Linked DNA regions of Homo sapiens. The protein of the gene in region 2 purifies or fractionates together with the protein of the main gene of each other region. This does not show direct contact. Each region holds a gene or a part of one and is shown on either strand. Other genes may lie near its edges.

Evidence for each region. The genes of interacting proteins can lie anywhere in the genome.
Region 1: the proteins of SCAMP2 (region 2) and ANKRD13A purify together in Homo sapiens (affinity purification with mass spectrometry; 2 studies listed by BioGRID and IntAct, with this or other methods). This does not show direct contact.

What each region holds. Positions count from the first base shown.
Region 1 is NC_000012.12:110,002,400-110,009,434, reverse strand, and holds part of ANKRD13A (ankyrin repeat domain-containing protein 13A), read right to left. Parts: intron 1-7,035. UniProt on the Homo sapiens protein: Ubiquitin-binding protein that specifically recognizes and binds 'Lys-63'-linked ubiquitin. Does not bind 'Lys-48'-linked ubiquitin.
Region 2 is NC_000015.10:74,870,358-74,877,230, reverse strand, and holds the start of SCAMP2 (secretory carrier-associated membrane protein 2), read left to right. Parts: upstream 1-3,865; 5' UTR 3,866-3,975; coding exon 3,976-4,032; intron 4,033-6,873. UniProt on the Homo sapiens protein: Functions in post-Golgi recycling pathways. Acts as a recycling carrier to the cell surface.

The DNA.
Region 1 (7,035 bases), on a different chromosome or scaffold from region 2:
GATGGAATATTAGCAACTCTACAGAAATAAAAAGGATTATAAAAGAAAACTATGGGCCGGGTGCAGTGGCTCATGCCTGTAATCCCAACACTTTGAGAGGCCGAGGCGGGTGGATCACTAGAGGTCGGGAGTTCGAGACCAGCCTGACCAACATGGAGAAACCCCGTCTCTACTAAAAATACAAAATTAGCCGCGCGTGGTGGCACATGCCTGTAGCCCCAGCTACTCAGGAGGCTGAGGCAGGAGAATTGCTTGAACCCGGAAGGCGGAGGTTGTGGTGAGCCGAGATTGTGCCATTGCACTCCAGCCTGGGCAACAAGAGTAAAACTTCGTCTCAAAAAATAAAATAAAATAAAAGAAGACTATGAACAACTGTATGCCAACAAATTAGACAACTTAGATGAACAAGATAAATCCCTACAGAAATGCAAACTAGCAAAACTGACTCAAAAAGAAACCAAAAATCTGAATAAGTTTATAACAAGAGATTGAATTAGTAATTTTAAAACTGCCCACCAAAAAAAATGCAGGCCCAGATGGGTTTTTTTTCCAGACTGAGTCTCGCTCTGTCGCCCAGGCTGGAGTATAGTGGCACAATCTCAGCTCACTGCAACCTCCACCTCCCAGGTTCAAGTGATTCTTGTGCCTCAGCCTCCTGAGTAGCTGGGATTACAGGTGCCCACCACCACACCTGGCTAATTTATGTACTTTTAGTAAAATTGGGGTTTTGCCATGTTGGCCAGGCTGGTCTTGAACTCCTAACCTCATGTGATCTGCCCACCTCAGCCTCCCAAAGTGCTGGGATTACAGGCACGAGCCACCATGCCTGGACTTCACTGGTGAATGCTATTAAACATTTAAAGAATTAATACCAATGTTTCACAAACTTTTCCAATAAATAGATGAAGAAGGAAAACTTTCCAATTCATTTTATGAACCCACTATTATCCTGATGACAAATGCGTCACAAGAAAAGAAAACCACACACTAATATCTCTTATGATATAGATGCAAAAATCCTCCACGATATACTGGCAAACTAAATTCAGCAACATATAAAAAGGGTATTATACACTATGACCAACTGAGACTTATCCTACAAATATAAGAATGGTATAACTTCAGATAGTCAATTAACGTATTACACCATATCATAGGATAAAACAAAATACATGATCATCTCAACAGCTGCAGCAAAAACATCTGACAAAACTCCAACATCCCTTCATGATTAAAAGAAAAAAACCAAAACTCTCAACATACTAGGAATAAAAGGAAACTTCCTCAAAAAGCATCTCTAAAAAACCCACAACTAACATCATAGTTAATGGTGAAAGACTGGATGTTTCCCCTCTAAGATGAGGAACAAGATGAGGATGTCCTCTTTCACCATATCTAGTCAACATTGTACTAGAGATTCTAGTCATGGCAACTGGGCAAGAAAAATAAATAAAAAGCATCCAGAATGGAAAGGAAGATGACATGATCTTGTGTATAAAATCCTAAGGAATCCACCAAAAAACTATTAGAACTATTAAATGAGTTCAGCAAGGTTTCAGGACACAAGATCAATAACTAATCAATTATATTTCTACATACTTGTAATGAGCAACTCAAAAATGAAATTAAGACAACAATTCCATCTATAATAGCATCAAAAAATAAAACATTTAGGAATAAATATGACACAATAAATATAAAACTTACATACTCTTAAACCATAAAACATTGTTTAAAAAAAATTAAAGAAGAACTGGCCTGGTGTGGTGGCTCACACCTGTAATCCCAGCACTTGGGGAGGCTGAGGTGGGCGGATCACCTGAGGTCGGGAGTTCGAGACCAGCCTGACCAACATGGAGAAACCCCACCTCTACTAAAAATACAAAATTAGCCGGGCGTGGTGGCACATGTCTGTAATCCCAGCTACTTGGGAGGCTGAGGCAGGAGAATCGCTTGAACCTGGGAGACGGAGGTTGCAGTGAGCCAAGATTGTGCCATTGAACTCCAGCCTGGGCAACAATAGTAAAAACTCCATCTCAAAAAACAAACAAACAAAAAAAACCTCAAAAAATTAAAGAAGACCTAAATAAATTGAAAAACATCCTTATGCTCATGGTTTAAAAGACAATATTGTTAAAATGACAAAACTCTCCAAACTGAGGTATAGATTCAATTCAACTCCTATCAAAATCTCAGCTGGCTTTTTGCTGACATTGACAAGCTGATCTTAGAATTCATGTGGAAATGCAAGAAACCTAGAATAGCCACCTTGAAGAGAGAGGTCTGAGGACTCACATTTCACGCTTGCCAATTTTAAAACGTACTACACAAAGCTACAGCAATCAAGACAACGTGGTACTGGCATAAGGACAGACATACAGGTCAATGGAATACAATTTAGAGTCCAGAAATAAACCCACACATTTATGGTCAATTGATTTTCAACAAGGGTGCCAAAATAATTCATTGGGAAAGAACTGTCCTTTCAACAAGTGCCGCTTGAACAACTGCATATCTACATGCAAAAGAACAAAATTTTGGCTGAGCTCATTGGCTCATCCCTATAATCCCAGCACTTTGGGAGGCCAAGGCGGGAGGATCACCTGAGGTAGGGAGTTCGAGATCAGCCTGATCAACATGGAGAAACTCCATCTCTACTAAAAATACAAAATTAGCCAGGCATGGTGGCGCATGCCTGTAATCCCAGCTACTCGGGAGGCTGAGGCAGGAAAATTGCTTGAACCTGGGAGGCGGAGGTTGTGGTAAGCCGAGATCACACCATTGCACTCCAGCCTAGGCAACAAGAGCGAAACTCCATCTCAAAAAAAAAAAGACAACCCATGGAATGGGAGAAAATATTTGCAAATCACATACTGATAAGGGCCTACTATCCAGAATATGCAAAGAACCTTTACAACTCAACAAGTCAAATAACTCAATTTTTAAATGGGCAAAGGATTTGAGATGACATTTCTCCAAGGAAGATACACAAATTGCCAATAAGCACATGAAAAGATGCTCAACATCATTAATCATAAGAGAAATGCGAATCAAAACCACAATGAGATGCCACTTCACACCCACTAGGATGCGTACAAACAAAACAACAGATAATACCAAGTGTTGACAAGGATGTGAAGAAACTGGAATCTCATACACTGCTGGTGGAAATGTAAAATAGTGCAGCCACTTCGAAAAATTGCTGGCAGTTCCGCAAAAAGTTAAAACATAGAGTAACTACATGACCCAGCAATTCCTCTCCAAGGTATATACCCAAGATAAATGAAAACATATACCCATACAAAAACTTATACATGGGGCTGGGTGCAGTGGCTCATGCCTGTAATCCCAGAACTTTGGGAGGCCAAGGTGGGCTGATCACTTGAGGTCAGGAGTTCAAGACCAGCCTGGCCAACATGGTGAAACCCCATCTCTACTAAAAATACAAAAATTAGCCAGGCGTGGTGGTGCACACCTGTAATCCCAGCTACTAGGGAGGCTGAGACAGGAGAATCGCTTAAACCCAGGAGGCAGAGGTTGCAGAGAGCTGAGATCATGCCACTGCACTCCAGCCTGGGCAACAAAGCAAGCTGTCTCAAAAAAAAGGAAACCCACAAAAACATATACACAAATACACACAGCAGCGTTACTCATAATAGCCAAAAAGTGGCGACAACCCAAATGTCCATCAACTGACAAACGGAGAAACATTTTCGTCTAACAAACAAAACATAGTACATCCATGCAATGGAATATATTCAGTGATAAAAAGGAATTAAGCACCTGAAACATGCCACAACGTAGATGAACCTCCAAAACATTATGCTAAGTAAAAGAAGAAACAAAAGGCCACATATGATTCTATTTATATGAAATGTCCAGAATAGGCAAATCTAGAGACAGGAAGTAGGTTAGCAGGTTGCCTGGGCTGGAGGGGTTGGGGAGAAATGAGGAGTGACTACTACAGGTATGGGGTTTCTTTTTCGGGTGAGGAAAATATTACAGGGTGGGTGCAGTGGCTAACACCTGTAATCTTAGCACTTTGGCAGGCCAAGGCAGGAGGACTGCTTGAGCCCAGTCTGGGCAACATAGGGACACATTTTCTCTACAAAAAAATCTTTAAAAATTAGCCAAGCGTGGTAGTGCTTGCTTGCAGTCCTAGCTATTTGGGAGGCTGAGGTGGGAGGATTGCTTAAGCCGAGAAGGTCAAGGGTGCAGTGAGCTGTGATGGTGCCAGCCTAGGCAAGAGAGTGAGACCCTGTCTCAAAAACAACAAAAAAACAAAAAAGAAAGAAAAAGAAAAAAATTTCTGAAATTTGACAGTAGTGATAGTTGCATAACTCAGCAGATATACTAAAAACCATTGAATAACCTTTAAATGTAGATTATATAAGTGAACTATATCGCAATAAAAATCTTTTGAAAAAATCAATCTGTATATGTTTATACATAATACATAAAACGAATCTCTCATGTACTGTTTGACAAGTTGCTTAATTCCTCCTGAGCTTCAGTTTGCTCGCTTGTAAAACTGAACAATAAAAAAAACCTACCTTACAGTTCTTACAAGGGGAAAGTCCTTAACTTAGCACGGTGCTTGACACCACAGTAAGTGCTGAGAAGAGTTACCTGTTATTATCATACGCCCACACTATGTAGTTTCATATAGCTGTCACTTTCTCCCTAAAAGGGATTTGCTCAAATTGCATTACAGTTATTAGTGGGGCTTAGAATCTTCAACTAATAATATGAGTTCAGAGAACAAGGAGTTTCAGAATTTAGCTGGAATTCACTTTTTCTTTTGAGACAGAGTCTCCCTCTTGTTGCCCAGGCTGGAGTGCAATGGTGCAATCTTAGCTCACCGAGATCTTGGCTCACTGCAACCTCTGCCTCCCAGGTTCAAGCAATTCTCCTGCCTCAGCCTCCCGGGTAGCTGGGATTACAGGCATGCACCACCACGCCTGGCTAATTTTGTATTTTTAGTAGAGACGGGGTTTCTCTGTGTTGGTCAGGTTGGTCTCGAACTCCCGACCTCAGGTGATCCGCCCACCTCGGCCTCCCAAAGTGCTGGGATTACAGGCCTGAGCCACCACGCCCGGCTGGAATTCACTTTCGAAACTGATCATTTAGGTTTTCCTTTTAAGTTTCTTTAGCCATGAGCTATACCCAAATAAAAATACCCATCCTCCTTTAACTAGGAGTTTCCTTCCTATTTGCTCATTTCAGCTCATCCACTTTTCTTGCTCAAAAGCCTTAAAAAAAATTTATTTTTTTTTTGAGATGGAGTCTCATACTGTTGCCGGGCCTAGAGTGCAATGGTGCGATTTTGGCTCACTGCAACCTCCGCCTCCCAGGTTCAAGCGATTCTCCCACCTCAGCCTCCCAAGTAGCTGGGATTACAAGCACCCGCCACCATGCCCAGCTAATTTTTCATATTTTTAGCAAAGATGGGGTTTCACTATGTTGGCCAGGCTAGTCTTGAACTCCTGACCTCATGATCCACCTGCCTTGGCCTCCCAAAGAGCTGGGAGTACAGGCGTGAGCCACCGTGCCCAGCCAAAAAAAATTTTTTTTTAAGGAGACGGAGTCTTACTATATTGGCCAGGCTGGTCTTGAACTCCTGTCCTCAAGCACTGACCCCACCTCAGCCTCCTCAATCAAAAGCCCTCTTTACTATCTTGCCATCCTCCTGCCGAGCTCTGAGGCCAGGCTGCAGAACCAGACAACTGGACACCCCTTCCAGCTTGCCCACTAGCCTCAGGTGAATTATCAGTTCCCCTGTGCCTTGGTACCTGGCATGCAGGAAGTGCTTCATAAACTCACTGTCACCTTTAGGGGGACTCCAGCAAGAGGCTGCTGGCTAGTCCTCCTCTCTCTCAACACAGACAACCACCCTCACTCCTCTTCACTCTCAGACCATCCTGGTCCTGTGTGGCCCCCACGCTGAGTCAGTGGAAACAGGAATCTTGAGGCCAGTTTCCTAAGGTGAGCTTGAACCCCCGATGACCAAGGGGGCACATGAGGAGAGCAGGCTCTAGGCTCTTCATCTTGGATGCCTAGCCCATGGCTCAGCGATTTGAATCTGTGCCCGGGGCCTCACCTGGCCTGCCCCAGGCTGGAGTGAGAACCCCAGGAATGTCCTCCTCTTACCTAGGTGCTATACTTTTCACCTGCTGGCTTCCTAAACAGGGAGCCTGGCTCTAGAGTCAGGCCTCATTTGCCACCCTCCACCTCACACAACCCAGGTTTTCCAACCCTGTCTAAGGTACACTGACTCACCTTTGCATCTGTCCCCTTAAGTGTTCATGTCTCACCATCAGTAAGAAGGCCAAAGAAGTTTAACAGACTTCTTTAGCTAAGCGGCCAACGACATAAGCAGAACACAAACAGTTTCAACTTCAGCAACCAACTTCAAGGCCCCACTGAATATTAATGAGCTGATGGGTTAAGAGGCACTTTATTAAATGCCTCTGCTGATCAAATGAAGGCCTGAAACAATCTGGTAGTTGGCATAGTTACACAACTGCCTGCTATTAGTGAGACAGTGGGATTGGGGCTGGCTCACACACACAGAAACACGTGCTTATCCTCTTCATCTGGATAAACTTGATTCTTTCTTGTGTTGCTGTTCCTGGAACAGGAACAAAAAACCTGGAAAAAAATTCTTACAGCTATCAGTATACATGCTCCAAGTCTCAATCAGGTGATAGACGGAATGAGGAAACTGACAGCAGAAACTCACCAGCAAACAAAACATTAAGGGAAACAGCCACTTTATTGCTGGGGTGATAAGAATTTTTTGGGTTTTTTTTGTTTTTTGAGTCGGAGCCTCGCTCTGTCTCCCAGCCTGGAGTGCAGTGGCACGATCTTGGCTCACTGCAACCTCAGCCTCCTGGATTCAAGCGATTCTCCTGCCTCAACCTCCTGAGTAGCTGGGATTACAAGCACGTGCCACCACATCCAGCTATTTTTGTATTTTTAGTAGAGACGGGGTTTCACCGTGTTGGTCAGGCTGGTCTCCAACTCCTGACCTCA
Region 2 (6,873 bases):
AGTGCTGATTGGTCGGGTTGGAGATGGAATCATAGGGGGTCGAAGTGAGTTTTTCTTGCTGTCTTCTGTTCCTGAGTGGGATGGCAGAACTGTCTGAGCTACATTACTGTTGGAGGTGGTGTCAGCAGATCCATCAAGTGCAAGGTCTGCAAAATATCTCAAGCACTGATCTTAGGTTTTACAATAGTGATGTTATTCTCAGGAGCAATCTGGGGAGGTTCAGACTCACAGCTGAAGGCTGCATGGTCCCTAAACCATAGTTTCTAATCTTGTAGCTAATTTATTAGTCCAGAAAGGCAGACTGGTCCCCAGGCAAGAAGGGATTTTTTTTTTTTTTTTTTTTTGGAAAAGGGCTATAATCAATTTTGTTTCAGAGTTAAACTATAAATTCCTTCCCAAGGTTAGTTCAGCCTACACCCAGGAATGAACAAGGACCACTTAAAGGTCAGAAGCAAGATGGAGTAGGTTAGGTCTAATCTCTCCCACTGTCATAATTTCCTCAGTTATAATTTTTGCAAAGGTGGTTTCAAGATCAAGATGAGAAAAATGGGTCTTGGAGAGGTGAAATAACTGGTTTAAAAGCAAAGAGCTGCATTCTCTATACCTCCTCTCTTGTAGAATAAATGAATGATGTCTCTCTTGTAGGGAATTAGACAGATAGATGGGCAGCCACCACATTGGTTGTAATTAAGTTTCATTCTTTCTTCACCAGCCCAGCATTGTACTTGGCTGCAGCAGACCCAGAGCAGGCAGGACTGCCTTGTGGGGTGTGGACTGTTCTCCTCTGAGGCTGCAGAGAGCAGACAGCAAAGATCTGTCTGCTGCCCTTGAGGGGTGGCCATAGAGGCTTGGGGACAGGCAATTTCTAAGGGGATACAAAATGGATCCTTCCCCATCCTCCCACTTGTGTGCAGATATTTCCCGAAGTAAAGCTGAGCTAAACCCTAAAGGATAGTCAGGATTTAGATGGGAGAGGAAGGTGAAAGAAACAGATGACCAGGCGCAGTGGTGTGTACCTGTAGGCCCAGTACTTTGGGAGGCGGAAGTGGCAGGATCAATTGAAGCCAGGAGTTCAACACCAGCTTGGGCAACAAAGTAACACCCTGTTTCTAAATAAACAAACAAAATAAATGGATGCAGGGAAACAGTAAAATAGTTACTAAATGTGTATGATGCATGTGGGCTGGGCACAGTGGCTCACGCCTGTAATCCCAGCACTTTGGGAGGCCGAGGCGAGCAGATCATTTGAAATCAGGAGTTCAAGACCAGCCTGGCCAAGATGGTGAAACCCAGTCTCTATTAAAATTACAAAAAAAAAAAAAAAAAAATTAACTGGGTGTGGTGGTGAGTGCCTGTAATCCCAGCTACTTGGGAGGCTAAAGCAGCAGAATCTCTTGGACCTGGAAGGCGGAGATTGCACTGAGCTGAGATCATGCCACTGTACTCCACCCTGGGTGACAGAGTGAGACTTTGTCTGGAAAAAAAAAAAACCCCAAACCCACAAAAAATAAATTAATAAATGTGTATCATGTGCTTTATACTATGTTAGTGACAGAAACACAACAGTGAGCAAAACAGACCTCAGCCCTACCCTCATGGAGCTTTCAGTCTAGCGGAGGATACAGGCATAAAGAACCACCTATACTAGTATTAATTACAATCTGCAATGGGTATTGTGAAGGAAAAGTACAGGGCAATAGGAGAGCTTATGTTGGGTATGAGGTGATGATGTAACCAAGAGAGTGAAGGGAAGCTACTCCTGAAGAAAGGCATCTGAACTTGCATTTAAAGGGTAAGGAGAGGTTAACCAGAGGATGATAGTGGGGCATGGGTTAAGTGCATACCAGGTAGAAGGAACACATGTGTAAAGGCCCTGAGACAGGAGGGCACAAGGAAGGTTTGAGCAACTGAAAAGAACTTGCATGGCTGGAACAGTGGGTGGGGGTTGGGGGCTAGAAGGGGTCAGAAGGGGAGAAACGTAGGGGCAGATCCTTTAGGACCTTGAAGACAAACTAAGAATTTGGGCCTTTATGATTTTTTTTTTTTTTTTTTGAGACAGAGTTTCACTCTTTTTGCCCAGGCTGGAGTGCAATGTTGCAATCTTAGCTCACTGCAACCTCCGCCTCCCAGGTTCAAACGATTCTCCTGCCTCAGCCTCCCAAGTAGCTGGGATTACAGGTGTGCACCACCACACCCAGCTAATTTTGTATTTTTAGTAGAGATGAGGTTTCACCATATTGGCCAGGCTGGTCTCGAACTCTTGACCTCAGGTGATCTGCCTGCCTTGGCTTCCCAAAGTGCTGCGACTACAGGCATGAGCCACCTTGCCTGGCCTGATTTTTTTTTTTTTTTTTTTAACTGAGACAGGGTCTCACTCTGTCACTCAGCTGGAGTGTAGTGGTGCAAAGATGGCTCACTGCAGCTTTGACCTCCTGAGCTCAAACAGTCCTCCTGCCTCAGCCTCCCAAGTAGCTGGGAGTACAGGCACAGGCCACCATGCCTAGCTAATTACGTGTGTGTGTGAGATATGTATATGTATATATATATATATATATATATATATATATATTTTTTTTTTTTTTTTTTTTTTTTTGTAGAGCCAGGGTCCTGGTATGTTGCCTAGGCTGGTCTCGAACTCCTGGCTTCAAGTGATCCTCCTACCTCTGCCTCCCAAAGTACTGGGATTACAGGCATAAGCCACGCACCCAGCCCTTTATGGAAATTAATTGAAAAATTTTAACAAAGTTCTGTGATAATTTTGCCCCCTTTAAACATATCTTTGATTACAACATGAAGAACAATAGACCAATTAACAGCACTGTATTAGTTCAGGGTAAAAATGACAGTGGCTGGGATTCGGTGACAGCAGAGATGAATAATACCAGACAGATCCAAATAAATAAGGTGGATTTGGCCAGACAGTGGTTCATGAGTATAATCCTAGCATTTTAGGAAGCCAAGGCGGGAGGATCACTTCAGCCCAGGTGTTTGAGACGAGCCTGGGCAATATAGTGAGATCCCCATCTCTACAAAAAATCCATAAATTAGCTGGGTATGGTGGTGACCAGCTGTAGTCCCAGCTACTCAGGAGGCTGAGGTGGGAGGATTGCTTGAGCCCAGGAGCTCGAGGCTGCAGTGAGCCATGATTGCACCACTGCACTCCAGCCTGGGCGACAGTGAGACCCTGTGGGGGGCGGGGGCGGGGGAAAGCGGAGCTGTGGAGAGTGAAGCAGCCACCTCCCCCATGATTGAGGCTGTGTTGCTGAATTCCGTGAGTCACTTCATAAATGTTTGATGTCCAGGTTCAAGTCCCAACTCAGGTCCCAAAGCTGATGGGCCCAGGAACCCTCGTCCCTAAAACGATGAAACGACATCAGAGGGCGAGCAGCCCTAGAAGAAGCAGGCTCAGCTCGGGTGGAGGACTGCTGGATGGTCCTGGCACTTCTCTTTCCCCGAGCACGTTCTGCAGAAGAAGCGCTTTCCTAGTTCTCCCAAGGCCTCTGGCCTCACCTGTCACCCCTGTCCTTTGCCCAGGGATCAGTTTGGACTTCTTCCCAAACTTGGTCTACAGAGAAGTGAAGGGGCTGTTTCCTGTCCCACTTTTGAGAGTTTGCTTTAGAAACATAAAATTGGAAGGTGTCAGATTGATAGGCAGTTGGGAAGGACTCCGGCCACGCCTCTGGCTCCGTAGACGCTCCGCGCAGCCAAGACCCCTGAATCCCCAGCAGAGCGAAGATGTGGACGGAAGCCGAATGCCCACCCACCGCACTATTGTGGGCTGGGCGGGGGGGGGGGGGGGGGGGGCGGAGCGACCCCGGTGCCGTCATAGGGCCACGCCCTCGGGGGAGGGCATCGCGCCTGCGCCAGAACCGCTGCCTCGCTCCCGGAAGTGGAGGGTCTACACGAAGCGCCGCTGGGTCTGGGTGCCCGGAGGCAGCAGCGTTCGCGGAGTTCGCCCGCTGGCCCCCGATCACCATGTCGGCTTTCGACACCAACCCCTTCGCGGACCCAGTGGATGTAAACCCCTTCCAGGTAGAGCCCCTCTCCCGCCATCCAGCTCTCAGATTTCCCTAGGGCCCACGGCCGCCGCCCGGGCCTCTCGCTAGAGCCGGGAGACGTGGCGTAGGAGGGACGGGTCATCTGCCCAATGGGAGAGCGGGCTTTGAGGTCTGGCCTATCGTAACGCGTGAGGGGCGCGACTAGCAGCAGGTGGAACTGCAGAGGAGGCGGGGCGCTGAAGTGTTGGAGACAGTGGGGTCTTCTAGCACCCGGAGGCTGGGCTGTGCTAGGGAAGGGGACTGGAGCAGGTACGGTCGGACCCTTCCGGAAGTCTCCTAGCGTCAGGGAGAAGCGAAATGTGGCTATCGCATTCCCTCATTCTTGGATAGACACCTGTCTTGAGTCACTTTAGAAGAGGGGGTGACAGCAACATATGAGGAGGTGGTGAAGCCTCTGGTGGAGGGGAAAAATGTGGGAAAAGCCCAGGACACCTGCCACCGCTCCACCACCAGCCAAACTAGTGTATAAAGTACAGGAGAGCCCCTGAGATTTGTCAGGGAAAGAAAGATGGGAGAGGGCGGGAAGGTAGCCCAAGTTGAAAAATGGCCTTGATAAGAATTCCACATTTTGGCCATGGGTCTAGTTTGGAGTGGGTTTTGACCAGATAGGAGAGCCCGGGTTAGGGAGAGAGGAGAGGTGCGGGGGACTGTGAAAAATTCTGGACCCACAGGGAACGTTTGTCTGATGGAACTGTGTGTGGTGGCAACATAGTTGAGATGCACTGACGTGTGAGCTGGCCTGACTTTTTTTTTTTTTTTTGAGACGGAGTCTCGCTTTGTCGCCCAGGCTGGAGTGCATTGGCACGATTTCCGCTCACTGCAACCTCTGCCTCCCGAGTTCAAGCAATTCTCCTGCTTCAGCCTCCTGAGTAGCTGGGACTACAGGCGTATGCCACCACACCCAGCTAATTTTCATACTTTTAGTAGAGACGGGGTTTCACCGTGTTGGCCAGGCTGGTCTCAAACTCCTGACCTCAGGTGATCCATCCGCCTCGGCCTTCCAAAGTGCTGGGATTACAGGTGTGAGCCACCACGCCTGGCCTGACCTTTTGAACAGCAATCAAGGAAGAAACAATCTTCCTGCTTTCTTTCTTTTCCTTTTTTTTTGTTTTGTTTTGTTTTGTTTTTTGAGACAATTCTTGCTCTGTCGCCCAGGCTGGAGTGCAGTAGCGCGATCTCGGCTCACTGCAGCCTCAGCCTCCTGGGTTCAAGTGATTCTCGTGCTTCAGCCTCCCGAGAAACTGGGATTACAGGTGTGCACCACCACACCCGGCTAATTTTTGTATTTTTAGTAGAGACGGGGTTTCACCTTATTGGCCAGACTGGTCTCAAACTCCTGGCCTGAAGTGATCCACCCACCTTAGCCTCCCAAAGTGCTGGGATTACAGGGGTGAGCCACCACACCTGGCCTCTTTTTTTTGAGACAGAGTTTTGCTCTTGTTGCCCAGGCTGGAGTGCAGTGGCGCGATCTCGGCTCACTGCAACCTCAGCCTCCTGGGTTCAAGCAATTCTCCTTCCTCAGCCTCCTGAGTAGCTAGGATTACAGGCATGCACCACCACGACCGGCTAATTTTGTATTTTTAGTAGAGACGGGGTTTCTCCACGTTGGTCAGGCTGGTCTCGAACTCCCGACCTCAGGTGATCCACCTGCCTCGGCCTCCCAAAGTGCTGGGATTACAGGCATGAACCACTGCGCCCAGCCCTCTTTCTTCCTTTTTTAAGGCAGGGTCTCACTCTGTCGCCCAGGCTGTAGCACAGTGGAGGTCATGGCAGCCTTGACCTCCAGGATTCAAATGATTATTTGAATCCCACCTCAGTCTCCTGAGTAGCTGGGACTACAAGAATGTGCCACTGGGCCTGACTCCTTTTAAAAAAAATTTTTGTAGAGAAGGGGTCTCGCTGTGATGCCCAAGCTGGTCTCGAAATCCTGGTCTCAAGCAATCCTCTGGCCCCAGCCTCTCAAAGTGCTATGATTACAGGCATGAGCCACAGGACAGTCTTCCTACTTAAAGCCCACACCTTTCTGCCTTTCAGCTGAGAGCACAGGGATGATCTTTTTCCACCATGAGGGGCTGAACTGTTACCTCCAGAGCTCCTATGCCTCTTGTTTCACGTCTGCTCAAAACCCGTTCTAGGGAAGCTTGTTTGTGCTGACTGGTGAATTATGAGCCCTGATATTCTGCTCTGTCAGGATGTCACCAGGCACATTAACTCACCCTGCTTGTCCTTTATTTTGGTCATTGGCAGCTTTTAAGTTTCCTGCAGGTGTCAGAGAAGTCCTTGAAGGAGTCCTTCCTGTCATTCACAGCATGAGTTTTCCCACTTTGAATCGCTTCAAGGGTCAGAGCAAAATCAAAGGAGACTTGAACTAAATAATTATACGCTGTCAGGAGAGTGAAAATGTTTTGCTTCTTTCTTGGTCTCAAGGTGTCTTAGCCAACAGGAGCCCTCAGGGCAAATTCTGATAGCTTGTTCCTTAGAACATCAGGGAATTCTGAACATTCCTCTCGTAGCTTAATGTTTCTTGACAGAGCGTTTGCAAGGACCTTGTCTCTTATGTAAGGCAAACAGTCATCTCTATTGAGTAAAGAAAGAAGATTTGCATTTTTTTTTTCTGCCAATGTCTTCTGGTAACAGACTTTAATTACAAAACTGCTGTATAATACTGGGGTTTGGGTTTTAGTAGGATCTTGTAGCCTTATGGTGTATGTTGTATGTGATGATTTTCCATTTTTTATGTGTGTTTTTTTGTCCTCTCAGAATCAGAAATAAAAAGTCTGCTGCTGTCTGACAGAGAGGAAGTCAGTTGTCTAAA